Linked DNA regions of Homo sapiens: region 1 is reported to be linked to region 2. Evidence: microRNA targets listed by miRTarBase, many of them from high-throughput screens and not tested one by one. Region 2 holds a microRNA gene; the other region holds the end of a gene's coding sequence.
Evidence for each region. The annotated mature microRNA hsa-miR-6823-3p reads UGAGCCUCUCCUUCCCUCCAG and lies in region 2 at 7,568-7,588, opposite strand. An mRNA with a match to its seed (bases 2 to 7 or 8) in the 3' UTR can be bound and repressed. Matches are read on the target gene's strand: a 7mer-m8 pairs with bases 2 to 8, a 7mer-A1 pairs with bases 2 to 7 and ends in A, and an 8mer does both.

Region 1: miRTarBase lists ASIC4 as a target of hsa-miR-6823-3p. The part of its 3' UTR that is shown has no 7-base or 8-base seed match.

Annotation. Positions count from the first base shown.
Region 1 is chr2:219,535,273-219,548,386 of GRCh38, reverse strand. ASIC4 (acid sensing ion channel subunit family member 4) reads right to left here. Exons shown (of 10, transcript NM_018674.6): 6 at 13,063-13,114; 7 at 11,230-11,321; 8 at 11,066-11,145; 9 at 10,651-10,755; 10 at 9,615-10,454. The coding sequence ends at 10,341. CHPF (chondroitin polymerizing factor) reads left to right here and starts at 4,578. Exons shown (of 4, transcript NM_024536.6): 1 at 4,578-5,162; 2 at 6,198-6,771; 3 at 7,262-7,441; 4 at 7,745-9,433. The coding sequence starts at 4,849. The coding sequence ends at 9,004. It overlaps TMEM198 (transmembrane protein 198), which reads right to left and starts at 4,359. Exons shown (of 5, transcript NM_001005209.3): 1 at 4,010-4,359; 2 at 3,494-3,698; 3 at 306-881. The coding sequence starts at 3,659. It also overlaps a transcript of OBSL1 not described here. RefSeq lists silencers at 4,157-4,296, 4,337-5,046, 5,057-5,146 and enhancers at 9,613-10,168, 10,169-10,723.
Region 2 is chr3:48,542,394-48,558,248 of GRCh38, forward strand. It overlaps MIR6823 (microRNA 6823), which reads right to left and starts at 7,628; the gene lies at 7,568-7,628. PFKFB4 (6-phosphofructo-2-kinase/fructose-2,6-biphosphatase 4) reads right to left here and starts at 14,410. Exons shown (of 14, transcript NM_004567.4): 1 at 14,288-14,410; 2 at 7,725-7,841; 3 at 7,471-7,567; 4 at 1,187-1,253. The coding sequence starts at 14,384. RefSeq lists enhancers at 8,039-8,702, 8,703-9,364, 9,365-10,028, 10,029-10,690, 14,813-14,902 and 1 more.

The DNA of each region.
Region 1 (13,114 bases), not on the chromosome of region 2:
GTTTGTTTGCATCTCTGTTATCTGTCTCCTGCCTGCCTTGAATCCATAAGGACAGGAACCTTGTCTGTGTTATCTCTGCTGTATCCCTGGTGCCTGGAATGGGGTTGGTGCGGAGCCAGCACTCCATATGTTGTTGTGGAATGAATGATGGCACCTGGGTGCTATCCTCCCAGACCCTGAGCAAGTCAGCTCTCTACCGCCATCGAGGCCTTCTGCTGCTGTCCCCCACTCCCCAGTCACTTGGCCCCCAACCCATCCCTGGCCACCCACTCCTCTCATGTCCACCTTGGCCTGTGCCCCCTTACCTTCCGTGTGGGAGTCCCCCTCAGCTGTCACCCTCCACTGCACCAGAACGCCCATCAGGCTGAGCAGGGGCCAGAGTGCCAGCAGGGCCCAGCTTCGCCAGCAGAGTGGGGGCACAGGAGCAGCCCGGAGTCGCTCCACCACGTAGCGCCCCAGCAGTAGCAGCTCGGCGAAGTAGTCAGCGGCAGTGGCGATCAGCGCAGCACCAGTCACGGCGGTGGCCAGGGTGGTGAGTGGGCGGGGCCAGCGCAGAGTGAGCAGGGCACAGAGCAGGCCGCCCCCCAGCAACAGCCCCAGTGGACCCCACACGGAGCCTGGCTGGTAGTAGGGTGCGGAGCCCAGCAGGGCAGCAGCTGCGAGCAGCAGGCCGAGCAGCAGCCCCACCAGGAAGAGGCCCACGCTGCGCACTAGCATGGCCACCAGCCCGCAGAGCAGCCCGATGCCCAGAGCGATGCCCGCGCTCGCCCCAGCACTCAGCTGTGTCTCTAGCACCCGCTCTCGGTAGCAGAGGAGGAAGATGACCACCGAGCCAAACAGCAACCCAGTGAGAAAGAGCACTGCCTTGAAGCAGCGGTAACCTGGAGGGGAACAGGGGCTAGTGAGGGGCCAAGATGAGGGCACCAGGCTGGAGGGAGCAGGTCCAAGGGGTCAAGGACATGGGATCCCAGGGGAACCAGAGACAAAGACACTAAGATCAGAGAATTGAGGGTCACTGGAGTCATGACGGCATCAGTGATGGGGCCATTGAGGTCAGGGGAGGTTAGAGAGATATGGCTGTTGGTGGTCAATGGGAAGGCAAACATAACCATTGAGATCATGAGGGTTGATGTATTTGAGGATCACAGGAGTTAGGATAAATCTTTTGAGTCAAGAGTGAATTCGTGCATTGGTGTCTTTGGGATCATAGGAGTCAGAGAGAGAAGTCACTGGGGTCCCAAGGGGATCAGAAAAAGAGTCATTGGGGTCTTTGAGAAGGGATTGCTCACAGAGATGAGGTATTTGGAAATCATAATAAACTCGAGGGCCGGGCGTGGTGGCAGCACTATGGGAGGCCAAGGCGGGTGAATCATGAGGTCAGGAGTTTGAGACCAGCCTGACCAACGCGGTGAAACCCCGTCTCTACTAAAAATACGAAAAATTAGCCGGGCATGGTGGCACGCACCTGTAATCCCAGCTACTCAGGAGGCTGAGGCAGGAGAATCGCTTGAACCCAGGAGGCAGAGGTTGCAGTGCACCAAGATCGCACCATTGCATTCCAGCCTGGGTGACAGAGCGAGACTCTTGTCTCAAAAAAAAAAAAAAAAAGAAACTTGAGAGGTGAGGGTCACACAGGTTCAGAAAGATGAGTCTTTGGGGGTCACAGGGCTTCAGAGATAATGGCACCACTGAAAGGTTACAAAGAGGACAGAGTAGCAGCATTACTGGGGAGTTGTCCCAGAAAATGAGGTATTTGTAGGTTAGGGAGATTGACAGAAATAGAATCATCGAGAGTATAAAACGATTTCCAAGAGAGAGGAACACTGAGACCAAAACAAGGAATTACTGGGATCACAGTATGGGGAGGGGTGATCAGATAATGAGGTTATGGGAATTAGAGAGGAGTAACCAGGGATCAAGACTAGGAGTAATAGAGGGGGTCAGAGGGATGGAAGGTAATGACATAACTGGAGGTGAGAGGAGGTGGAGGTCACTAAGGCTTACATGAGGTCACACAGAATCAAAGAGAAGGAAACAGTGTTTGTGGAGTTTCAGAAATAAGGAGGTTATAGGGCCATTAGGCCCATTAGAGATACTTGAAAGGGTGAGGGAAGTGGAGATTCTGAATAGTTGGAAAGATGGAAATCAGAGATGGGGGTCAAGGAGTCAGAGAGAGCCAAAAAGAAAGATAACAGAGGAGAGTCACTTCCAGGAGTGGGGGGAAGTATGAGAGTCCAGGAGGCTCGTGATCAGAGAGAGGAGTAGGGCGTGGACAAGGGCTCAGAGTCCATGAGCCTGGGCGTAGTGACATCCAAGAGGGGTAGGATGTCAGGAAGCCCAGGAGAGGGAATATGAGGCTGCATTGAGCAACATGCAGAGGGAGTGGGTACAGATATGGAGGGGGTGAGGTGATACAGAATCCTTGGAGGCCCAGAACGTGTCCTGAACCCTTGCGGGGGGCACTTCCTCCTGCCTACTCTTCAGTTGTTCAGCCCAGAGTTTGGGGGAGGAATGGGAGGGACCATCTGGCTCCCAACCCTGTCTACCCACCCATTGCAGGGGGAGGCTGCAGAACACAAGTCTTGCACTACCTCTGCTCAACCTGGAACCCCAGCCCCCAAGACTCATTTGCCCCCACTGGTCCCACTCACCTACAATTCTCCTGGAGGCTTTCTTTGGGCCCCCAGCCCATAGAGCTCACTCTCCTCTCTGAAGTTCTGTAACTCTTGCTGCAAAGCCACTGGTCACTTACTCCCATTATACTGGGCCACTAGCCCATCTGGCACCTTTATGCATATTAGAAAAAGGTGTGCCTTTCTCTAGGCAAAGCAGCTTTGTGCCAAGGCCCAGAGTTTGTCAGAGCATGAGCTGGACTTTAGCCCCCACTTGCCCACTCAGCTGAGCTCCCTTATTTAGTACCCGTCCTGTACAAGTATTCACAGCAGCTCTGATTACCGGAGCCTGCCTTGTAGGCTGGATGGATGTGTGTGACCACCATCCAGCCCACTCTAATATGTATCCCAGGTGTAAATGCTCCAGGGAGTCTCCTCCCTGTCAGACAATATGCCCTGTGGTAAGGGACCATGTGTAATAACCCTGCTAAGTGTTTTCAGTGGCTACCTAGCACAGTTAGCCAAACACATCCTCACAATAGCTACAATTTATTGAATGCTTACTAATTCTTACAACACTACATGAGACAAATATTGTGATCATTGTTCAGATGAGAAAACTGAGGCTCAGACAGATTAATGTGCCCAAGACATCACAATTAGTAACTGCAAAGCTAAGTAAATTCACACTCAGGTGTGCCTAATCCAAAAACCTGTTTTTCCTATAATCTAGAGTCTAGACAATCTATAAATGTGTGGGATGAAAGAAAAGGAAGAATTATTCATGATGGTAGAGGGATTCAGAGAAGACTTGGGGGCCCAGAAAAAGAACTCGGGGAAACACTGGGGAGCCCAGGTGAGGGATGAGATGGGGATCTCACCGAAGAAGCAGTAGACGACTCCAAACAAACAGCACATGATGCAGACGAGGGCCGGCAGTGCCTGGTACCTGCGCTCCAGGGGCTGTTCACAAGGTGCACCCCAGAAGGCATCATCTGGCTCAGGGGGCAGCAGCTGGAACCGCAGTGTTGCCACAGTCCCCGGCATAGTGCTGGGAATAGAAGGGAGTCACCCTCCCAAGTTAACCTGACAGAGGGAAAGTTGGGGTCACGGAGGAGTCCTGGGTCCCCACCAGGATGGGGGTGGGAGAGGGATTGGGAGAACTCAGCAAGGACAGTGGACAAAGGAATAGTATCCACATTTGTGCAGCTCCGGAAGCATCTCTGGAGTGGGGAGCAAAGACAAAGGGAAACAAAAGTGCCTGGCTAGTGGAGGCTGGGATGAAGTTAAAAGAGGGACGGGAGTCGGGGGGATGAAGGGAGCGTGCTGCCAGTGAGAAGGAGGCAGCCAAGAGATTCATCTGTGGGCGGCTCAATATGGGATTGTCCAAGATTTACCTGGGCTGGAGGCGACCTGAGCTTCTGAGTGAAAGAGGCTGTGCAGAGGCCCGAGGGGCCGGGGTTGCGGGGCGCCAGAGGCTCCAACTGACTGGGGTCCAGGGAAAGTCCGTCGTGCGAGGAAGGGGGCTGCTGGGCCGGAGAGAATGGTGTCGGCGCGGTGGCGGCGCCGCTCCACGTCCAACACCGGCTGGCACTCCAGTCCCGCGGCGTCCGGGAACTCGGGCTGGGCCTGAGGAAGGGGAAGGCGCAGGAGCCGGGGCTCGGGCCGCCCCAGAACCGCGGCCCCATGCCCTGAGCCCGCCCGCGGCCTTTGGTGCTGATGGACAGCTCCGGCCTCTGCTCCTGACGTCACTCAGGGCGCACCATCCAGGCAGGGGCGGGCTGCTTCTGACGTCACATGGGACGCACCAACCACGCCGCGGGAGGCAGGGGACTCCGCCCCCGGCGTCTCCCTCTCCCGCACTGAGGAGGGGGCACTTCCGGGGGTCCTTCCCCTTTAACCTCCCCCTTCTCCTCCCTCTCCGGTAGCGAGAGCCCGAGACCCCACCCCGGGGGCGGGGCCCTTGCAGTGACACGTCGGACAGCTGCGGCCGCGGCTGAGGCTCCAGTGCCGAGCGCAAGAACCCTGCGCAGCCCAGAGCAGCTGCTGGAGGGGAATCGAGGCGCGGCTCCGGGGATTCGGCTCGGGCCGCTGGCTCTGCTCTGCGGGGAGGGAGCGGGCCCGCCCGCGGGGCCCGAGCCCTCCGGATCCGCCCCCTCCCCGGTCCCGCCCCCTCGGAGACTCCTCTGGCTGCTCTGGGGGTTCGCCGGGGCCGGGGACCCGCGGTCCGGGCGCCATGCGGGCATCGCTGCTGCTGTCGGTGCTGCGGCCCGCAGGGCCCGTGGCCGTGGGCATCTCCCTGGGCTTCACCCTGAGCCTGCTCAGCGTCACCTGGGTGGAGGAGCCGTGCGGCCCAGGCCCGCCCCAACCTGGAGACTCTGAGCTGCCGCCGCGCGGCAACACCAACGCGGCGCGCCGGCCCAACTCGGTGCAGCCCGGAGCGGAGCGCGAGAAGCCCGGGGCCGGCGAAGGCGCCGGGGAGAATTGGGAGCCGCGCGTCTTGCCCTACCACCCTGCACAGCCCGGCCAGGCCGCCAAAAAGGCCGTCAGGTAGTGATCGGCTGCGCCCGCTCTACCCCCTGGGCAGCGGCCGGGAAGCGCGCGGGGAGGTCGCCCGGGCCCGGGTCAGGCTCCGGAAGGAAGGGGCTGGCGAGCCAGGAAGTCTTTGGGCCCCGATAACTTCCGATGGCCCTGCCTTCCCGAGAGCCGTGGGGCCAGTCCGAGACTTTCTCTGGGCCCTATCCCGGCCTGGGCTGAACTTACTGGACTGTGTCCTAAACCGGCTCGACCCGATGGCGCCCCAGAGATCCTACTAGCTCCCTGGCTGGGCTGCTGGTGTTAGAGAAATGACTTATATATAGGGTGAGTGTATAGAGACAGGGGAAGAGAAAGGAGAGAACTAGGATTTACCTGGATCTCTTGTTCCTGAGTGGGTTACAAGGGCCACCTCAGGGTGAGATGGGGGAGGGAGGAATGTACCTATCTCATTAATGTCTCTGCTGATGAGTTGAAATAACTTCTAAGTAACATTGGGTTCAAATGCTGGTTCTGCAATTTACCTTCTGCCTTACCAAAAGGTAAGTTCCTAGAGCCCCTGAGTGCAGTTTGCCCCTCCCCGCAAAAACACTCAGTACACCCCTATGCCAAACGTTCCTTTATGTCATTTATGTGAGGCATTTGTGGCATAATGGCATATTTATATAGAAATGAGTAGATACATGGTGTGTCCAGCGTTTGGCTGGGTGCTTTAAACAGATATAATCAGTCCCATTTTACAGATGGCTCAGGTTAAATAACATGCTCAAGGACATAACTACTAAGTAGCGAACCCCGGAGTCAGACCCACAATATCTCTCTCCTATCTGGGTGGGTATTGCCATCTCCCAAATGCAAAGCACTACCTGTTTAAGACCATTTCGTTTAAATCCTCATGACCCCTGGGAGAGAGGGTTTATTTTTAACCTATTCATAGGTGAGAGAACAGATACAGAGAAGACGTGACCTGCCAGGGTCTGTGCTGACCACCTCCCCCCCACCCCCCGCCCCGTTGTCCTTTTGATAAGCTTGTGCCATCTCCTCCCCTAGGACCCGCTACATCAGCACGGAGCTGGGCATCAGGCAGAGGCTGCTGGTGGCGGTGCTGACCTCTCAGACCACGCTGCCCACGCTGGGCGTGGCCGTGAACCGCACGCTGGGGCACCGGCTGGAGCGTGTGGTGTTCCTGACGGGCGCACGGGGCCGCCGGGCCCCACCTGGCATGGCAGTGGTGACGCTAGGCGAGGAGCGACCCATTGGACACCTGCACCTGGCGCTGCGCCACCTGCTGGAGCAGCACGGCGACGACTTTGACTGGTTCTTCCTGGTGCCTGACACCACCTACACCGAGGCGCACGGCCTGGCACGCCTAACTGGCCACCTCAGCCTGGCCTCCGCCGCCCACCTGTACCTGGGCCGGCCCCAGGACTTCATCGGCGGAGAGCCCACCCCCGGCCGCTACTGCCACGGAGGCTTTGGGGTGCTGCTGTCGCGCATGCTGCTGCAACAACTGCGCCCCCACCTGGAAGGCTGCCGCAACGACATCGTCAGTGCGCGCCCTGACGAGTGGCTGGGTCGCTGCATTCTCGATGCCACCGGGGTGGGCTGCACTGGTGACCACGAGGTGGGATGATAAGCTATCCCACTGATACCTCCTTGTCATGTTCAAATCCCTCTGAGAGGCAAAGGGATGTTGGAGATACAGGTCTGCTTTTCCATGCCAATTCGGACATTTATTTTCTATCTCTGTGACCCCCAGTAAATTACTAAATATCCTGGGCTTCAGTATCTTCCTTTGTGCCAATGGAAATAATTATTGCTCGGGGTTGTTACAAGGATTAGAAAAAATCAGGGAGCCTTGTACATAATAGGCATTTGATGTTAGTTATTATTTTAGCCCTTGGACAGCTCTGAGACAGGACGCATGCCCATTTCGCAGATGAGCTAGCGGAGGCATGCTGAAGGTCACACAGACTCACAACTGGTCAAGGTAGACTTAAACCCTCAGACTGCAAGTCCACAACAGGTCATAGGCTGAGGAGATGAGACACTTACTATGAGACAACGGAAGACAATGCCAGCTCATCACAGATCCCTTCCCTTCCTCTCCCCAGGGGGTGCACTATAGCCATCTGGAGCTGAGCCCTGGGGAGCCAGTGCAGGAGGGGGACCCTCATTTCCGAAGTGCCCTGACAGCCCACCCTGTGCGTGACCCTGTGCACATGTACCAGCTGCACAAAGCTTTCGCCCGAGCTGAACTGGAACGCACGTACCAGGAGATCCAGGAGTTACAGGTATGGTCTAGGTCTGGGGGTGGCAGAGTGACGGGGACAGGATCTGAGAAGTCACAGAGAGCCCAGAGAAATGACAAGTTAGCACTAGAATCACAGAACAAAACTACTTCCCAGCCCCTGCCTGTTTCTACATTCTCTGATGAGCCTCTTGGCTGTCTATGCTGGGGAAATGATAGGTATGGGCAGAGGTTGGCAGGGGATGAGGGGCCCATCCTGAGTGGCACCTACTGCCTACCCAGTCCCCCAGCTGTGTGCTGCTCCCTGTAATCTGTCCCTTGCTGATGGCCTGTTTCTCTGATCCAGTGGGAGATCCAGAATACCAGCCATCTGGCCGTTGATGGGGACCAGGCAGCTGCTTGGCCCGTGGGTATTCCAGCACCATCCCGCCCGGCCTCCCGCTTTGAGGTGCTGCGCTGGGACTACTTCACGGAGCAGCACGCTTTCTCCTGCGCCGATGGCTCACCCCGCTGCCCACTGCGTGGGGCTGACCGGGCTGATGTGGCCGATGTTCTGGGGACAGCTCTAGAGGAGCTGAACCGCCGCTACCACCCGGCCTTGCGGCTCCAGAAGCAGCAGCTGGTGAATGGCTACCGACGCTTTGATCCGGCCCGGGGTATGGAATACACGCTGGACTTGCAGCTGGAGGCACTGACCCCCCAGGGAGGCCGCCGGCCCCTCACTCGCCGAGTGCAGCTGCTCCGGCCGCTGAGCCGCGTGGAGATCTTGCCTGTGCCCTATGTCACTGAGGCCTCACGTCTCACTGTGCTGCTGCCTCTAGCTGCGGCTGAGCGTGACCTGGCCCCTGGCTTCTTGGAGGCCTTTGCCACTGCAGCACTGGAGCCTGGTGATGCTGCGGCAGCCCTGACCCTGCTGCTACTGTATGAGCCGCGCCAGGCCCAGCGCGTGGCCCATGCAGATGTCTTCGCACCTGTCAAGGCCCACGTGGCAGAGCTGGAGCGGCGTTTCCCCGGTGCCCGGGTGCCATGGCTCAGTGTGCAGACAGCCGCACCCTCACCACTGCGCCTCATGGATCTACTCTCCAAGAAGCACCCGCTGGACACACTGTTCCTGCTGGCCGGGCCAGACACGGTGCTCACGCCTGACTTCCTGAACCGCTGCCGCATGCATGCCATCTCCGGCTGGCAGGCCTTCTTTCCCATGCATTTCCAAGCCTTCCACCCAGCTGTGGCCCCACCACAAGGGCCTGGGCCCCCAGAGCTGGGCCGTGACACTGGCCGCTTTGATCGCCAGGCAGCCAGCGAGGCCTGCTTCTACAACTCCGACTATGTGGCAGCCCGTGGGCGCCTGGCGGCAGCCTCAGAACAAGAAGAGGAGCTGCTGGAGAGCCTGGATGTGTACGAGCTGTTCCTCCACTTCTCCAGTCTGCATGTGCTGCGGGCGGTGGAGCCGGCGCTGCTGCAGCGCTACCGGGCCCAGACGTGCAGCGCGAGGCTCAGTGAGGACCTGTACCACCGCTGCCTCCAGAGCGTGCTTGAGGGCCTCGGCTCCCGAACCCAGCTGGCCATGCTACTCTTTGAACAGGAGCAGGGCAACAGCACCTGACCCCACCCTGTCCCCGTGGGCCGTGGCATGGCCACACCCCACCCCACTTCTCCCCCAAAACCAGAGCCACCTGCCAGCCTCGCTGGGCAGGGCTGGCCGTAGCCAGACCCCAAGCTGGCCCACTGGTCCCCTCTCTGGCTCTGTGGGTCCCTGGGCTCTGGACAAGCACTGGGGGACGTGCCCCCAGAGCCACCCACTTCTCATCCCAAACCCAGTTTCCCTGCCCCCTGACGCTGCTGATTCGGGCTGTGGCCTCCACGTATTTATGCAGTACAGTCTGCCTGACGCCAGCCCTGCCTCTGGGCCCTGGGGGCTGGGCTGTAGAAGAGTTGTTGGGGAAGGAGGGAGCTGAGGAGGGGGCATCTCCCAACTTCTCCCTTTTGGACCCTGCCGAAGCTCCCTGCCTTTAATAAACTGGCCAAGTGTGGACTTGTGATTCAGAGGTTTTGAAAAGGTAGGCAGGCGTGGGGGAGGGAGGACTGGCTGAGCACCACAGGCTCCCCTGCCCCTGCTGGGGCCTGCCTTTCCTTTCACCCGGGACCAAGTCATGCATGTGCCCAGCCTCACCCCGGCCCCCAGTGCGTGCTTGGTCACACATACACACAGAGAATTCTTTATGCCTCTTTATTCCCAATCTCGTCAGCACTTTATAAAATCAGACTGGAGGGAGAGAGGACTGAGAAGGCTCCCTTCCCACCCTCCAAGCTCAGCCGAAGTCTGGAAGGTCTCCTGCCCCCTCCCTATAGAAGGGACTCTAGGGGTGGGGCTGGTGCAGGGGGAACTGGGAGCTGGGCCAGGCCTGCTGGGCCATCCTCTCCCCCTGCCAAGAGGGGAGCTGGGCCTGGAGAGGGGCAGGAAGTAGGACCAGCCCAGCACTCCTGAGTCCTGGGGCTCTCCCTATCCTGCTGACATTGGGGCTGGGACCCTGGCTGTCCCTAAATCACCCACCCCTGTAGCCCTACCCACCTTCTACATCTGTATCCCCTCCCCCCACCCGGCTTTCCCTAAATATTTACAAATGTACAGAGGGCTCCCCCTCCCCGGCTGGGATGGGCTCTATCCTCCCCCTCCCTCTCCTTCCTTCCCTTCCTCTCCGTGAGGGCCCATGGCCTGGTCTCCAGCCCTCCCGGGGCACCAGCCTGGGGATAAGGGGTGTGGACAAGAAGGACCTTTGTGCAAAGCAGCTGACATCAGGGCAGGGGAGGATGAGAGCAGGAACTGAGTCCTGGCCCTCCCAGTGAGCACCGCCCCCAGGCCTCTCCCAGGAGCAGGAGAATGTGCTGGGGATCCCAGGAGGGGTCCCAGACTCCTGGGTCCTTTCAGTCACAGCACCGTCCTAGCAAGCAAAATCTTCAAAGAGACCTCCTGGGGGACCGTGGGGGTGGTGGTGATTGGGGAGCAGACTGCTGACCCCCCCACCCTCCACTCGGCCCCGGCTCGGGCAGGGACTCTGCAGGAGAAAGAAAAGAGAGAGTGGGACCGGGAGAGCTCAAGTGGTGCCCCCAGGGCTCACACCGCCAGCCTTTCCTTGTCACCTCGGGCAGAGGCTCCAGGGCCCCCTCCACAGGCTGGTTCAGAAACAATGGATGTATTCAGTCCTGGGGAGGTGTGGCTGCATGCTGCAGGCATTTAGAGCTTGTCCTCACCTGTTCCTTCAGCTCCTGAAGCCCCAAAGTGGAGATGCCCCCAGTGGAGGTCCGCAGGGGGGTCTTGGGACGCCTCCATACCCGCTTCAGTCGATCCCAGGACACCTTGGGGTTCAGGGTCGGGGACAGCAGTGGGCTCAGGAAATTTGGTTGAGGAGAAGCGTGAGCCTTACCATGCCCAGCTGCCCACAGGACTTACTGCCACAGCAAACTCCCAGTAGGACACCCTCCTCCTCCTCACCCATCCCCTTCTCCTGACTCTGAGCCCTCAGGCCTGCCAGCCAGTCAGGGGACCCTGGCAGAGAACCCTGAACCTGACTTTCCAGCCAGGCCAGCTCCACCAGGCACCCCGCACTGCCCCCTTCTGCTTTGCCCACGGCCCCCACTCCCACCCTGCCTTCTCCAGGGCCCTTGCCTCATAGATGTAGTCGAGGATCTCCAGCAACGTGAGGATGCTGGCCCCAATGAACAGGCCCATCTGTCCCCCGAGGTCTCCTGGGAAGCAGGAGAGCAGTGTCAGAGGGAGCGGCCGGGCCGATCCACCCCCACACAAGCTGGGGGCAGGGACACCAGTCTCACCCAGCAGGGCTGACAGGCCATAGGCTGCTCGCTGCTCCATGGCTTCAGAGGTCAGGGCCTCAAAGAAGACATCTAGGACCAGGAAGTTCTCCCTGTGGAGACAGGAAGCAGGGTATCCGTGTGGGCCTCTCTTCCTGAGAAGGCTGGCAGGGGCATCCTGGATCCAGCAGATCCTGATCAGAGATCACTACATGGGGAAGTCAGTGACTACCCCCCGGACTCCCCAAGGCTGTGAGGGGAGGCAGTCCCGGATGTGTGTTAGCTTCATCTTTTGAGGGGTAGCAAAGGGCCTGGGAGAGCAAAACACAACTCCTGGACCTGAAGGAAACACTCCTCCCTCCTCTAAAGCAGCCAGTGGTGTTGCCTTTGCCTCCTCCTTACGCCTCTGCGGACCCTTCAGTGACCCCTGTTGCCCGTCAGTCCACTCCACAATGCCCCTTCTCGGTGTCCTGGGCAGCCGGTGGCCTGTCCCCGGCACCTTCCTCCCCAGCCGCCGTCTTTTCTGCTTCCTCCACACAGCTGCCTATGGCTCAGGCTCCCCGCCACACCACCCCACCGCCCCACGTCCTGTCACTGGACGCCTCCCCATTGCCTCCTCTCTCAGACCCCAAACCCAGGGCCCTCAGAGGCCGGCTCACGCCTCCCCAGCTTCACTCCCCGACTGGGGCCTGAGAATCAGTCCTACATGATCAAACGTGGGCTCATTGACAAATTGTGGCATGAGTTTTGTGTCATAATCATCTGTCCCCACAGAACCCAGCACTGAGCCTGGCACCCAGACCACGCTCCACAAGTGTAGACTGGCTGGAGGGGACCAGACCCAAGCCTCAGGGCGGTCCCTCCTGCCTCCCCCTGCAGGGTACTGTGTTCCTCTCCTGTCTCATCCTGTCCCTCTCCCTCCGTGCAGGGAAGAAAGATGCATAAGCAAAGCACTCTGAAATGTGGCATATGTGTAATGACAGAGATCTGTACGGGTGCTGGGAACTCAGATGAAAGGTGTTTGGACCTGGAAGCACTTCCCTGGAGGTGGAGACACTGAACGTGACTTGAGCAATGAGTGGGGCTACTTAGAAGAGAAGGGCTGTGGCCAGGCAAGGTGGCTCACACCTGTAATCCCAGCACTTTGGGAGACCAAGGACGGCAGATCACTTGAGGTCAGGAGTTTAAGACCAGCCTGGCCAACATGGTGAAACCCCATCTCTACTAAAAAGACAAAAATTAGCTGGGTATGGCTGTGGGTGCCTATAATCCCAGCTATTTGGGAGGCTGAGGGAGAAGAATCGCTTGAACCTGGGAGGTCGAGGTTGCAGTGAGCCAAGATTGTGCCACTGCACTCCAGCCTGGGCGACAGAGCAAGACTCTGTCTCAAAAAAAAAAAAAAAAAAGAAGGAGAAGAATAGAGCTATGAAGGGCATTCCCGGTAGAAGACTCATCATAGAGATGCGGCCCACTCCCTGCCTCCACCATGCCCAGCGCCTGTTGAGGGCAGCCTCCACCACACACACACACGCACACAGACCCACACAGACATAGACACATTCTCTCACACACATACCCATTCACAGATACATACACTCATAAGTGTGCATGCACACACACATCACACACTCACACACCCACAAGACACACATACATGCCCCCCACACAGACACACACACACATGCATGTACACACCCACATACACCCCACACACATACACACCCACACCCACATACACACAAACACATACACACATACACTCACACACACGTACACACAGAGTCACACAGCCACCCCCCACACACACGTACACACAGAGTCACACAGCCACCCCCCACACACACACACACATACCGTATGTAGGTCTCGTTGCGGTTGTACTTCCTCGCCAGGTACCGGGCTGAGC
Region 2 (15,855 bases):
AATCAAGCTAGCATGTAGCCACCAGAAGTTCTAGAAAAAGCAGCTCAGAAAATGGGAGTAGGGATGGAGTGAGTTGCCAGAAAGGGGCAGAGGTGATTTGTCAAAGAAATAATACATGACAATTTCCCTGACCTGGAGAACAAGAGTGTTATGATGAAAAGGGGCCCCCTAGGACCATGTATGGTGGAGAGAAGACCCACCACAAACCACATCACCTTGAAGACCCTAAAGGCCTCCCAAGCGGAAGGGGCATGAGAAACTCTCAGCTCCCTCTAAGAGATGAAGCTTTTAGGAAGATCAGCAAATCAGAATGACATGAGACTTCTCCACAGCCACACTAGAAGCCATAAGACATCAGAGTGATGTTGTAGAAGTTCTAAGGGAAAAGCACTTTCCACCTAGAAATTCTATACCCAACCATCAAATGTGAGGATTAAAAAAAGACATTTCAGATGTGCAAGGTCTCACACAATTTACCTCCCCAAGCACCTTTCTCAGGAAGTTACTGGAGGATGTGCTTCAATGAAACAAATCAGTAAGTCAAAGAGAGGATGATGTGGGATCCACAGGCAGAACATTCAACCCAGGAGAGAGAAGGGCAATGGCTGTGCTACAGGCACAGATTGTAGCTGGGGACAGAGAACTCCAGAAGGCATGACTCCAGGAAGAAGAAGGAAGGGAAAGAACAGCCCCTGTGTTTGACTATATAAGGCTGGGGTAGAGCCGTTTCCCACAGACACCCCAGTTTAGCCCTGTTCTGCTCTTCCGTCTGACTAGAAGGGCCAACACACAGGTGGAATCCCCTTAATCCAGGATTCAGTGGGTTCCTACAACAACCAGTAATGCTGGGCAGGATTCTCCCCACACCAGGAGAAATCACATTTACTAAAGACTTAGGCAACCTGATACCTGTAACTTCTGGGGTGGCCAAGAATACAAGCATCCAGAGGGAAGTCCTGCAGGGTCAAATGCGGCCACCACATGCCCAGAGGGAAACTCCTGGCCCATATCCAGTCTCTGGCTTCCTCCTGCATAGCTGTTGCAGACTTCCTCCCAAGGGCTGGCACCCAGAGCAGCTGGGGCACACACACCCTGCCTTCCCCTCCAGATGCCTGACGAGCAAAGGCACAGATGTGGATGGGCTCCCATGTGTCACTCCCAGCTGTCACCAGGGTGTCACACTCACCGCCACATGTCCCCCCTCCTCACTAAGGAACCGCCGGACGTCACGGAGGGCTGCCAGGGCACACTGCCTTCAGGAGAGAAAACACAGGGTCAGCCCAGCACCCGACCCTGGCTCCAGGAGGGTGGCCAGGGACACACAACAGGAGGAGACATGACAGGAGAAGGAACAGCCCCGAGGTCTCTTGCTCTCTTTTCAAAGTTTCCCTTCTCTTTCCTTAGGATAATGTTCAGTGTTTGGCTAACTCTGCTCCTGTGAGGTGGAAGGCTATACACTCTTGGCTATTAGGAACATTTTTTAAGCACTACGTTTCTGTATTTTCCCTCATCCTCTCATTGTGCACAAATCCATGCTGTCATTGTGCCACATTCATGATTTCTAATTGTCATATATTTTCCCTGATTATCAAAATAAGCCCCCCCCCGCCCGCCTTTTATTTATTTATTTATTTTTTTTGAGACTGAGTCTCGCTCTGTCACCCAGGCTGGAGTGCAGTGGTGCGATCTCGGCTCACTGCAACTTCTACCCAGTTTCAAGCAATTTTCGTGCCTCAGCCTACTGAGTAGCTGGGATTACAGGCGTGCACCACCACGCCCAGCTAATTTTTATATTTCAAAATAAGCATTTTTAAAAGCAGCCGTTTTCTTGTGTGCATGTCAGGAGTTGGTGGTGGGGATGGGAGGAACACTAGGGCTGGCCCTCGGGCAGTGTTAGGCTTAGTGCTCAACTTTCTTTCCTGAAAGAGAGTTCCCCAAACCACCCCTTCTGAGGGAGGGTTCTGCATCTCTTCTTCTATCATATCCATACCCTCCAGAATGGGAATCCCCCACCTATGACCAAACACTGACTATACAGTTTTCAGATCTTTTTTTTTTTTTTTTTTTTTTTTGAGATAAGGTCTCGCTCTGCCACCTAGGCTGGAGTGCAGCAGTGGGATCATGCCTCACTGCAGCCCAAACTCCTGGGCTCAAGCAATCTTCCTGCCTCAGCCTCCAGAGTAGCTGAAACTACAGGGATATGCCACCACACCTGGCTAATCTTTAAATTTCTTTTAGAGATGGGGTCTTGCTATGTTGCCCAGGCTTACACAATCTTTTTAAGTTCTCAGCTTTTTCATTTATTGCTGCAAAGTGGATTGACACAGAAGGTTTGTTTTTTTTTTTAGACAAGAGTCTTACTCTCTGTTGCCCAGGCTGGAGTGCAGTGGTGCAATCTCAGCTCACTGTAACCTCTGCCTCCCAGGTTCAAGCAATTCTTGTGCCTCAGCCACCCAAGTACCAGGGATTATGGGCACGTGCCACCACATCTGGCTAATTTTTGTATTTTCAGTAGAGATGGGGTTTCGCCATGTTAGCCAGGCTGGTCTCGAACTCCTGACTTCAAGTGATCTGCCCACTTTGGCCTCCCAAAGTGCTGGGATTACAGGCGCGAGCCACTGCACCCAGCCAGGATTATTCTCATCAATTTATCCTATGAGGTCTGGAGATAGATAAATTACCTTTTTATCTATTATCTTCCCTTTTTCTATGTAAGGGTAAAGCTAGATCTCCTAGCTTTGTGTTTTTTGTTTTTTGAGACAGAGTCTCACTTTGTTGCCCAGGCTGGAGTGCAGTGGCATGATCTCAGCTCACTACAACCTCCACCTTCTGGGTTCAAGCAATTATCCTGCCTCAGCCTCTCGAGTAGCTGGGATTACAGGCATGTGCCACCACACCCAGCTAATTTTTTGTATTTTTAGTAGAGATGGGATTTCACCATGTTGGCCATGTGGGTCTTGAACTCCTGACCTCAGGTGATCCACCCTCCTCAGCCTCCCAAGTGCTGGGATTGCAAGCTTGAGCCACAGTGCCCAGCCCTCCTGGCTTTGTTGATCTTTGGATTTTGTGTTTAAACTCCCAGCATGTCAAAGTCAAAGGGCTCTCATCAGGACGATATGCCTGAAATACAGCGGCAGAAGCTGATCTGAGAACCACAAAGAAATCAGTGGTAGAGCTGAGTCCAGGGCACTGAAAAGAGCTCTACTCTTACGGCTCCTTGTGACATTTCTTTTCTTTCTTTTGTTTTTTTTTTTTAAGAGACAGGGTCTCACTATGTTCCCCAGGCTGGTCTTTAACTCCTAGCTTCCAGTGATCCTCCCGCCACAGCCTCCCAAAATATTGGGATTACACATGTGAGCTACTATGTCCAGCCCTTGTAACCATTTCTGTGCCCCAATGGGTCTTCCAGTTAAAGCCTCAAAGTGCTTTCTTCCTCATGCCAAAAACATCTGAATTCTGAGAGTCCAGGTAACTGGCATTGGTAGGGACATTTCTCCTTAGAGCCCCACGTTCTGGGCTAAGATCTCTTTTGTGGGCTGCTCTGGCCATGACACCACCATGCAGGAGAGACCTCAGGGCCCCGGTGGAGATGCTGAGGGAAGAGCCTGGGAGCCTGTGTGTGTGCGTGTGTGTGTGTGTGTATAAGAGAGTGCAAATGGGGTGAAGAGATGCATATGTGCATGAATCCACACGTGTGGGTGGTTATGTGTGTGTTGTGCCCAAGTGTGTACATGTAAATCTGTGAGTGTACCTGTGTGAGTATTCCCTGGGCCCATGTATGAGCACAGGTGCACACACACGAGCGTGCACAACCCCTGTGTGCGGTATGTGACTAAATGGGCACAGGTATGAGTGAGTGTGCCCACATGTGTGCACACAGGATGTGTGTGCATGCACCCATGTGTATAAGTTTGTGTGTGTGTGTCCAAGCATATACAGAGTATGCATGTGGGGGTGACCATGTGTGTACACATGGTGTGTGTGTATACATGTCTTCATGTGCCATGTGACTGTGTGAGAACATATGCGATCATGCTTGGTGTGTACATGTGCACAGATCCACATGTGCATACAGGTGAACACAAGCGTATATGTGCCCACACACATGACTCTGAGGTATGCATATGTGTGTGCACCCACCTTCATGTGTAGTGGGTGACTGCATGTGTGTGGAAGAGTTAACACAGCAGGTATGAGAATGGTCCCCTTCGAAAGGCCTGCTTGTGAGGTTGGCCCTTGGCCAGGGTTGGGGAACTTGATGGTAAACAGTTCCCTCTAGTGATATGAAACTTTCCCTGAATTATAAGAGGAGCTCACTGTGCATAGACTGTTTATACAAACAACATGGTTTATGTTGATTATCTGCTTTCCTTCTGGGAGTCTGGAATTTTGGTACATGCTAGGCACAGGGTGCCTATATGACCAGCCCCCAGTAAAAACCTTGGTCGTTGAGTCTCTGATGAATTTCCCTGGCAGACAACATTTTACACATGTTGTCAATGTTCAATGCAGGAGGAATTAAGTGCGTCCTGTGTGACTCCATGAGGAGAAAATCTTGATGCTCGCTCCTGGTTTCCTCTGGACTTCACCCCAGGCCCCTTTTTCTGATTTTGCTTTGTGTCATTTTGCCGTACTAAGTCTTAGCCATGAGTCCAGCTATATGCCAAGTCCTGGGAGTCACCCTAGCAAATCACTGAACCTGAGGGCAGTCTTGGGGACCCCCTACACACCATGTATGAGCGTGCTCAGGTGTGTGTGTATATACAGGGTGAGAACATGTGCGCCTTCGTGTGTGTAATGGCCCTTGAATTACGTGTGGCTTAAGTGAGCCCAAGTATTTATATGTGTAGGTGCCCACACATGTACATATACCCTTATGTATAACGTGACTGTGTACACAGGGGGTGTGCATGTGTATGTACCCTGTGCATATGGTATACGCATGTCCGGATGTGTGCCTATGAGGTATGCACATGCATGCATGTGCCCACGTGTGTGTGTGCATAGGGGGCTTGTGTGTGGTATAGGACTGTGTGCAGGAGTATGAGTGTGCCTGTTTAGAATATGTGTACTTATGCCCTTGCATACACTTTGTTTTTGAGACAGAGTCTTACTCTGTCACCCAGGCTGGAGCACAGAGACGCAATCTTGGCTCATTGCAACCTCCACCTCCCAGATTCAAGCAATTCTCATGCCTCAGCCTCCTGATGTAGCTGGGATGACAGGCGCCCCACCACATGTGGCTAATTTTTGTAATTTTAGTAGAGATGGGGTTTTGCCATGTTGGCCAGGCTGGTCTCAAACTCCTGGCCTCAAGTGATCCACCCACCTCGGCCTCCCAAAGTGCTGGGATTACAGGCGTGAATCACTGCACCCGGCCTTGCACGCACTTTTCTAGATCTTCTGCTGTGTCCAGTGTCAGAGATGGACCTCAACACTGTGTGAGTAACTGGGCCTCTGGGAAATGCAGCTGTCTCTTCCCAGGTTTTCCATTTTAAAAACTCTGGTCCTTTTATTTTGCTAATTGGGAAATTTTGGGCTGATTAATAGGAGATGGCCCTGTGGCCCAGCCAGAGCCAGGATTCGGATACAGCAGAGAGGGTTTCTAGGGCAGCCAGAGGGTATGCCTGCAGAAAGGCAGCAATGAGCCTGTCCCCAGCTTCTGTTGCAGGGTGACCTTGGACTAGCTTCCCAACCTCTCTGAGTCTAGGTCTCTTCATTTGAATTAATCCCAAATATCCCTACCTTAGGGGGACAGCCAGAGTGGAACAGCTGGCAGACTCTCCCCACAAACACTATGGATTCAGGCAGGACGGACTTCAAATTCAAACCCTGAGTGACCCAAGGCACCCCCATCACTTTCTGGCCTTGGTCCCAGCATCTGGAAAAGTGAGGCACCGCCCACCACAGAAGCTGCTGGGAAGATCAGACAGTAGGCTATCAGCGTCCACAGCTTGGGGTTGTTGGCTGAGGCAGAAGAATTGCTTGAACCTGGGAGGCGGAGGTTGCAGTCAGCTGAGATTGCACTACTACATTCCAGCCTGGGCGACAGAGTGAGACTCCATCACACACACACACAAATAATAATAATTTTTAAAATAAATAAATAAAATTTGCATTTGATGTTCCTTGACCTACCTATTGAGGAATATTGGAATGATGGACACTTTTTAGCGGTGGATGGGCTTAGATTCAAGTCTGGGCGCTGATGTAAACTTGCTATTTTGTGCGAGACTCCTGGCCTGTCTGAGCCTCAGTTTCCTCATCTGTAAAAGTAGGGGGTGACAATGGGCATCAAGAACCCAGCACACGGTAGGTTCAGACATTAGTCCTCTACTTTTTATCTGGCTCAATATAACCAGAGGGTCCAGCCTTGATTTTTACCCACAATTTGGCCATAGAAACCTGAATATCAGGCTCCCCTTCCCTTCTTGGTGCCACAGCCTGGCCCAGCCACACCGATGCAAGAACAAAGGCAGTCTCCAGTCTGAAGGTCCAAGCCCCACAGCAGGGAGTTCCTGCCCCCTGGTGGCCAGAGAAGGAACGGGTAGCCTAGTGTGGACCCCAGTGGCAGCCTGGTAGCCACTGGGCTTGATTTGGGGAAGTCACTAGAGCTGGGTCAACCTCTGCTCACTGCCCTATCCTGATGGCTGGGCCAAGAGCAAGTCTCTGCCACCCTAGGTTGATAAGGGGCTTCTCAAGACCACAGCTAACACCTCCTGAGAAAAGCACAGCATGGCTGCTCAGACCACCAGCTGGTGCTCAGTTCCTTGAAGAAAGGACTCAGTTCAAGTCTGAAAGTTGTTGAGGGTGGGGCGGTAGCATATACATATTTCTATCTCCAGAGTAACAGCAGAAGTGTGAACGACTCACCCAGCAGCATCTAGGAGATGTCAATGCAAAGCCAATCGCACCAGCAATCACACACCAAGAACATGCTCCAAATACACAGGAGAGAGCTTATCCTGGGGCAAGGGAGGAAGCCCCCCACCCCCAGCTCCATCCCTAAGGCCTGTATGCCTGCACTCACTCAGGTTCCCTTCCCCAGCAGCAGCCATCCCCACGGGGCGCTGGGGTGAGCGAGCGTGACCTCCAGGCAGCAGCTCCAACGACCTGCATGGGCTGAGCCCCTCTTACCTCCCTGAAGCTCTGTCCTTCCCAAGGGTTCCTTAACCCCAGGGCAGGAATGGCCCAGCCACCAGGAGGCCACACAACACACCCTCTCCTCTCATCCCCAAACCCATCACCTCCCACCCCCACCACATCCTGAGAGATCCAGAGACCAGCCTTGTCACACAGCCCTGTCACACAGCCATCAGGGCTGGGCAAGGCCAGGGCTCAGGAGTAGCTCAGTCATTCACCAGCAGCTCCACTCCAGGGGCTTCTCAGTAAATGGTCAGTAATGTGTTAGCTTTCTCCACACTGGGTCCCCCAGCAACCTCTCCCCCCACACCCAACACATATACTTACTTCCTGATTTTCAGGCCCTCTTCATTGTCGGGGAGAAAAAATTCAAAAGATTTGTAGGTCTTGACCACGTCCCGGCGATACTGGCCAACATTGAACTCTGGAGGGAAGGAGAGGCTCAGCTTTCACAGCAACAGCAACCCCTACCAACCCTGACCTTGACCCAACCCCAGGCCAAATAATAGAGAATAGGCCTTCTCTATTCTCTTCGTCATGCCCCACAAAGCTCCCCTTAGACAGCTGGGGCCAAGCCTCACCCCGAGTGGGCACACCAATCCAGTTCAGGTATCGAGTCAGCTTCTTGGAGATGTAGGTCTTGCCCCTGGCGGGCAGGCCCACCATGACAATGAGAGTTGGGCAGTTGGTCATGCACACTAAAAGGCAAGCAGCACAGTGTCAGATGAGGGCTGGGACCCTCCCAGCGCACCCCTCCCTCTCAGCCTGTGGTCTCTCAGCCTCAGGGCATGGGACTGGCATCAGACGTATCTTCTTGGCTTCCTAGCATCCCCACACAGCTCCTGGAGTGGCCCCAGATGCTGGTTTCAAGCCACCGTTGGCATGTCCCCCTTCCCCAGGCCCGCCTGGGCTCTGGCAGACACAGTGGGATCTCTCCAGCCCTTTTCATCCTGATGTGCACCACCAGGCATAAAGTCAACCGAACTTGCCACTGGCTAAACATGGCTAGGGGGGTCCCCACCGCATGAAGGACAGGACCAAAACCCAGCAGGGTAATCAACACCCTGCCTCTGTCATCCAGGAATCCATACCCTAACCTTTTTACATCTCTCCCACCCCATCCATCACTCAGTGCTCCCAGAACACATAGCCCCACTGCATGCCCTCCCTGTGGTGAACTTCTTTTCATCATACAAAGCCCAGCTAAAAAGTCACTTCCTCAATGAGTCCTTTCCCCAAGGCATCTCCATGGCCACCGGGAACACCCCTCACCCTCAATCCTGGTCACCTCACTAATGACACTCTTCTCTCTAGACTGATCACTTACAGCAGAAGAAGCCCTGTGGTATCTGAGCCCTTTAGGGCCCTGGGGCCTGGCACAGCGCTGGTGCTCAGGAACTGTGGGCAGGATCAGGGAGGGAGGCATCTAGAAGTCTCTCAGGGTAAGGACCACAAGGGGTTGAGACCAGAGACCCAGACTGATGCCCACAAGGACAGTCCCTCTGATAGCCCACCCACCACCATCCATGTGCCACAGGTCAGTGTGCCAGCCAGAGAAGATGCCAGGCTAGAGGCACGGAAGGATCTGAATACAGCCCCCTATATTCCCAGCTGGCTAGAACAGATACCAAGGCAGCAGAACTGCCAGCTTCATCTTATGGGACCTAGCTCACTTTTCTTTTTTTTTTTTTTTTTTTGAGACGGAGTCTCACTCTGTTGCCCAGGCTGGAGGGCAGTGGTGCGATCTTGGCTCACTGCAACCTCTGCCTCCCAGGTTCAAGCGATTCTCCTGCCTCAGCCTCCCAAGTATCTAGGATTACAGACACCTGCCACCACACCTGGCTAATTTTTGTATTTTCAGTAGAGACGGGGTTTCGGCATGTTGGTCAGGCTGGTCTCAAAACTCCTGACCTCAGGTGATCCGACTGCCTGGGCCTCCCAAAGTGCTGGGATTACAGGTGTGAGCCATCACCTCCAGCCTTCTTTTTTTTTTTTTTTTTTTTTTTTTTTTTTTTTGAGAGGGAGTCTCGCTCTGTCGCCCTTGCCCAGGCTGGAGTGCTGGAGGACACTGGTACCCAGCTCACTGCAACCTCTGCCTCCCGGGCTCAAGCAATTCTCGTGCCTCAGCCTCTCAAGTAGCTGGGATTACAAGCACATGCCACCACACCTGGCTAATTTTTGTATTTTCAGTAGAGACAGGATTTCATTATGTTAGTCAGGCTGGTCTCGAATTCCTGACCTCAGGTGATCTGCCTGCCTCGTCCTCCCAAAGTGCTGGGATTACAGGCGTGAGCCCAGCCCTCAGCTCAGTTTCCAGTGCCATCAAACGCGGTCTCACGTCAGAAGCCTCAGGAAGCTTCCTTTTCCTCATCCTTAGGACCTGGGTCAGGTAAAACCATAGCAGACAGGCAGATGAACAGATGTGGGGACCTGTCACTGCCCCTCTTCTTGGTTCTGCAAGTGCCTTCACCTGGTTGCCTAGACAGACTGTCCCCACCAACAAGTTGTTTCCCTCAGAGCACAGAGGCCCCAGAAGCACTTCCGCAGGGGATCAGGAGTCAGGCCTGGGTTGCCATCTTGAGTCTGACACTCATTGGGAACTCTGAGCCTCGGTGTCCCCAGCTGTAAAATGGGGCAGTCATCCCTCAGAGAAGCCTAGTGCTATCCAAGAGCCTGGGCACTTCTGGGAAGCTGTGCCCTCTGTCCTACCCTGGCGGATACTGAGCTAAAGCCATAGGTGTACCTCGGCACCGACTGCCCTTGGGACTCAGGGCATGGAGGCGGTGGCCTGGCCCCAGGCAGGCCCTGCAGAGAAACAAAGGGCCTTGCTTGCCAGTGGGGGCTCCATCACTCCTGTGCATTCCCCTTGTTTAAAGGTGACCCAAATGGTGAGCCTCAGGGGCGGGAAGGAGGAGACCCCATGAAACAGGCTGACTGAGTGAGAGTGGAGAAACTTGCAGAGAACTCTCAGTATTAGCTAAGGTGAGAGGAAAACAAGTTAGGCAAGGCCTTGCCTCCTCAGGGCCGGTGGACAGCTGAGGCCCGCATTGTGCATTGTTTGCATAGTTCCCGGCCAGGTGGCCGGGCTCTCAAGCAACCAAGGGCAGTGCGACAGCTGCTAAGCAGGAGGAAATCCTGCATCTACCCTGCTCCCGCTGATGGGGCCACCCCCCAACTGCTCCTTCAGGGACTCCCAAAACCTCAGGACTGGGGATCTGCACCCCCTCTCCACATCTCCTATTTTCCCAGAGACAGCTCCAGCCTCCTCCCATGGCATTTGGTGGCATTTCCCTTCCCGCCTTCCACCCACATGCGCAGCACAAGGTGGGCAGGCAGGGCAGCAAATCAGGCCTGGGTGCAAAACAAGGCAATAAATTACCTATCTCCTCTGCTCCCCAAGATAAGCTCCCAAGGAAATGACCCAAAAGAAAACCAAAGTTCAAGTGTATCACAACAGCTCTGCTTACCATAGCAAAACACTGGGAAATTCCAGCCATAAGAAATTGCCAACTGAGGCACAACAAGGAGGGAACACATTGCAGCTCTCAAAACAGAGCACGTGGACTAAGCGGGCTGGGTGCACGGCTGCACCTGTGGCTCTGAGCCCACAGGACCCTGACACTGAGCAAACAGGATGGTAGAATACACTGTTTATAGCTGGGCGTGATGGCACATGCCTGTAATCCCAGCACTTTGGGAGGCCGAGGCAGGCAGATCACCTGAGGTCAGGAGTTCGAGACCAGCTTGGCCAACATGGTGAAACCCTGTCTCTACTAAAAATACAAAAATTAGCCGGGTGTGGTGGTGCACACCTGTAATCCCAGCTACTCGGGAAGCTGAGACAGGAGAATTGCTTTAACACAGGAGGCAGAGGTTGCAGTGAGCCAAGATTGTGCCACTGCACTCCAGCCTGGGGGACAAAGCAAGACTGTCTCCAAAAAAAAAAAAGAACACACTGTTTATAACATTGAGCATGTGCGGAAGGAAATGTGAAGACATGTCAGCCCAACTTCCCTCATGGGTTCCTTTCCTGTAAATTCGCTGCAGGCCCCATGAGCTCTAGGAGCGAAGGGGCCCAAGGGGCCTGAGACGTGCCTGGCAATGGGCAGTGTCTATGTTCCATTACTTCTACCCAAGGAGCAGCCACAAGTCCCTGGAGGGGGTGCCAGAATTGACTCCTGAACTGCAACTGCTCTCACCTCCTTAGGCCAGGCTAGGGAAGGAAGAGCTCTTTAAAATAAAGTAACGTGCCATGGAGGCCCTTTTCAGAGGGGACTGAAAGTCATCTCTCCTGTTGCCCTGTGCACACACCAGTCATGTCCTTACCCAGGAAGAGTCTTGCCACCTTTCAGCTGAGAAAAGCCATCAAACACCGTCCTTTCTGCAGTCCTTCTTGAGTCAGCTCTTGCCCCACCTGCCCTCAGAGTTCCTCCAGGTCTGAGCTCGGAGGCCAATGATGGGAAAGGTAAAAGCCTCCCAAGCCCTCAGGTGTGGCTTTAAATTTTATCAAGCGGGGGCGTGCCTGTGGGAGTGGAGGAGGTGCAGTACATCCCTCAGTCCACCAGCCCCTAGTGCCCTGAGGAGCTGGGGACTAGACTCCAGAGAAAACCCAGTACAAAGCACAGACCAGCAGTGGGTCCTGCTTCTTCCTCCCCACAAAGCCCTGGGACCAAATCCGCTTCCATCCCCACCCACACCCTCCGGGTCCAGACTGTCCTTGCAGTCACTCAACCTACAAGTCTACTATGCAAAGGGTAAAGTGTTGCCCAAATGCAGGCACTGGGAGCTGGAGGTGCTGCATGGGCGGGTTCCATGTTCATTCACTGCTTACCCACTCCCTGCTGTGAACCCTGAGGCCCAAATCCCCAAACAACCTGCAGGTCTCATCTTTGGCCTCTCAGGTGCTACCTCCTCCTCCAGGAAAAAGTGCGGACCTAGAACCCAGCCTACCCCAACACCCTGAGACACCGTGATGGCACGAGCCCCTCAGCTCAGGCCAGAGCCACATTTCAGTTCCACACTTAGAGCCTGGAGAAACACAAGCCCTGCCTCAGGAGCTATGAGACCTTCCCATTGGGCCTCAGCTTCCTCTCACCTGTAACGGGGGTTGGCTTGGAGCTGATGCATCAATCCCTGACTCAGACGTAGTGAGAAGCAAAGAAAGAATGGTAGTGATGACAGAATACCCTGCCTCCGCTTATTGAGGACCTACTCCTTAAAGGCTCACAGACTTGGCTAGGCATGGCAGCTCATGCCTGTAATCCCAACACTTTGGGAGGCCAAGGGGGGCAGATCATTAGAGATAACGAATTCAAGACGAGCCTGGCCAACATGGTGAAACTCCATCCTACTAAAAATACAAAATTAGCCGGCCATGGTGGCGCATACCTGTAATCCCAGCAACTTGGAAGGCTGAGGCAGGAGAATTGCTTGAACCCAGGAGGTAGAGGTTGCAGTGAGCTGAGATAGGACCACTGCACTACAACCTGGGCAACAAGAGTGAAACTCCGTCTCAAAAAAAAAAAAAAAAAAAAAGTCCAGGTCCTCACTCCTTTCCCCTATGTAGTAATAGCAGCCACCCCCCTAAGTCAGGACCACACAGCCCTAATAACACAGACTGGCTCAGCCTCCCCGCCTCCAGAAGAGTCTCAAAGGAGGGGTGGCCATAGCCCTCAGGACTGAGTGTGCATTATAGACAGCACAGCCCCACCAGGACCTACATCACAATCAAAGCCATGAGTTACCACGACTTGGTCTGGTCAGAAACATGGCCTTCCCCTGCCAGGACTCACAGTGTGGCCAGAAATACACACACCCTTCCCCCAGGACTCATATCATGATCAAAGCCATGGCTCCAGGCTGCTGCAGCAGGATGAGCACAAAGAACTCTCCCCTTGCTTATCATACATAAGCAGAGGCAGGATCACAGGGAGACCCAGGCATGTCACTCAATCTCCTGATCTCCATTTCACTGTCTGTTAAACTAGATGTTCTCTGAGGTGCTGGACAAGCTGCAAATTCATTACAATGTTTCAGTTACTCCTAAAACAAATCTTTCTTTTCCTGGTAATAAAAAAGTTGCAGGCCAGGACCCACGCCTGTAATCTCAACACTTCGGAAGGCCGAGGCCAGAGGATCCACTTGAAGCCATGAGTTGGAGACCAGCCCAGACAACATAGCAAGACCCTGTCTCTACAAAAAAAAAGAAAAAAGAAAAAAAAAAGCTGGGTGTGGTGGCGCACCTATAATCCCAGCTAATCGGGAGGTTGAGGTGGGAGGATTGCTTGAGCCCAGAAGGTCGTGGCTGCAGTGAACTATGATCGCGCCACTGCACTTGCTCCAGCTTGGGCCACTGAGCGAGACTCATCTCTTAAAAAAAAAAAAAACTGCCAGCTCATTTAAGGACAGGCAGAAACTCAAGGAAGCGGTTTAAACACCTGGGACCCTAGGAGAGGTGAGCCCCTTAACAATTCCATGAATTTCAGCATTCTCCTAGCTGTTTCACTCTCCAGTTTTACTGTACACCCATGACCCCAGGTGGATACTTACATGTCCCGGGACACAGACACAGGCCCACACGGCATACTTTTCTGTCTCTATCCTGAGCACATCTCTGCTGAAGTTCCTGCCCAAGCTCAGCTTTAAGGCCAAGAGGCACCCTTCCTCCTGTTGGAAAACTAGCCCACCTTTGAAAGTTCTGGGCTCAGAGAGGCCAAGTAATTCACCTAGGGCCACACAGCTCAGTTCCAGTCCAACAACCCGGCCCACACTCCTTGGCCAGGAGAGAGGGAAGGGCCTGGGGTGCCCACAGGGTCCTCCCCAGACTGGGGGCGATGGGGATTGGAGAGGGAAGCGAGGGGGCCAGAGCCCTCCCCGAGGTGATGGTGGCCAGACCTAGCCACCGCCAAGCCGATATGCCCCCACACACCTGTCCCCGCCCCCTGCTCTGCCACACCTGTCTCTGGCCCACCACTGTCACGACCGCCTCACCTGTCCCCAGCAGCCTCCCCAGTCACGGCAACCTCACCTGTCCCCGGTTCCCCATCTGTCTCCCGCCCCTTCTCCATGCGAGACCCCCGCCCAGGCCGCCCTACCCACCCATCCCGGTGCACCTCCCACCTCCTCCCAGAGGACCCCGCCTCACCACCGCGCTGGCAAGCGTGCAGAGCGGGCCGCCCATTGCTGTATGGCATCCAGATCTTCTTCAGGGGGTTCTGTGTCAATTCCCGTGGGGACGCCATCCCGGGGCCGGGATGAGTCGGACTGCGCCGCTTCCAACCCAGCAGCCGGGCCACCTCGGGCCACCCGAGGTCCCGCCCCTTGGGCCCCGCCCCTCCTCAAGCCGCGACAGCCCATGTCTATCTTCCCGCAGGTCCCGCCCCAGAGTGAGTAGGCTCCGCCCCAGCTGAAAGGGGCCCGGCCTCCGACCACGCATGCCCAACTCACCTACCCGCCCGTTTTGGAACAAGTGGGCCCAGTTCTTCAGGCCAGGATCGAGAATGCGCATGCTCAACTCCGGATTGTACTGGTCCCGCCCCAGTTCAAGGCCCGGATTGTGCAGGCCCGCCCCGGATGCGCAAACTCAGCTCTCCCAACCTGCCCGCGCTGATTTGCATAGGCCCCACCTACGGGCTCCGCCCTGGCGCTGCATCCCTGAGCAGCGGCACGCGTGAATTCTGCTACCTCCTTGCTAGGGAGCCCAGGGCCCCCAGGAGGGAGGGGTTTTCATGCAGTGGGACGAGGCCTACGTGACCCGCACGGCCAGGTTGGTCAGAGCCGACAGGGGCCAGTAGGCCTGCAGTCCCAGCCGTCAACTCCGCTGCGCCCTCCTGCCCCTCCTCGGGGTCCCCCTTGACTGCTCCGAGCCCCGGGACTCTTCCGCCGTCCATAGGAGCATGCTCAACCACGCTGGAAAAGCTCTTTTACCTCATGGATAGAGACTCAAAACACATTTCAATATTGTTCCTCTTTCTTTGCTTTGGCTGCTGGGAGCAAATGCGTGGGACTTTTTTTTTTTGAGACGGAGTTTCGCTCCTGTTGCCCAGGCTGGAGTGCAATGGCGCTATCTTGGCTCACTGCAACCTCCGCCTCCCGGGTTCAAGGGATGCTCCTGCCTCGGGTTCCCAAGTAGCTGGGATTACAGGCGCCCACCACCACGCCCTGCTAATTTTTGTATTTTTAGTAGAGGCGGGATTTCACCACGTTGGCCGGGCTGGTCTCGAACTCCTGACCTCAGGTGATACGCCCTCCTCAGCCTTCCAAAGTGCTGGGATTACAGGCGTGAGCCACCGCGCCCGGCCGTGCGTGGCACTTAGTAACCAAGTACTTTGGGTACTCACTAAGCCCTGGGAGTATCTTAATCGTCTTTCCAGAATTTCATTTTTTACAATTTTTTTTTGATTTTTAGTATTTTGGTTTTTTTAACTAAAGTTTTACATATTTTTTGAAAATAATATGTTAATAACATTTTCTCTTCAGGAAAATGGGATGTGCACATTGTCTATCTTACAGTATTACAGTATAAATTAAGTATGTCAATCTCTAAGAAATTCATTTTAAAATACGTTATGGTTGCCTTTTACTATATTTGTATCTCCCTCTTGTCTTTGAAAATGCACTGGGGACAAGGAACAAGGGAGAGATCCAGAAGTTCCTAAACCCCTGGCTCACTTTCTTGTTTGGCCCCCACCGGACTCCTGCAGTTTCCCGCCT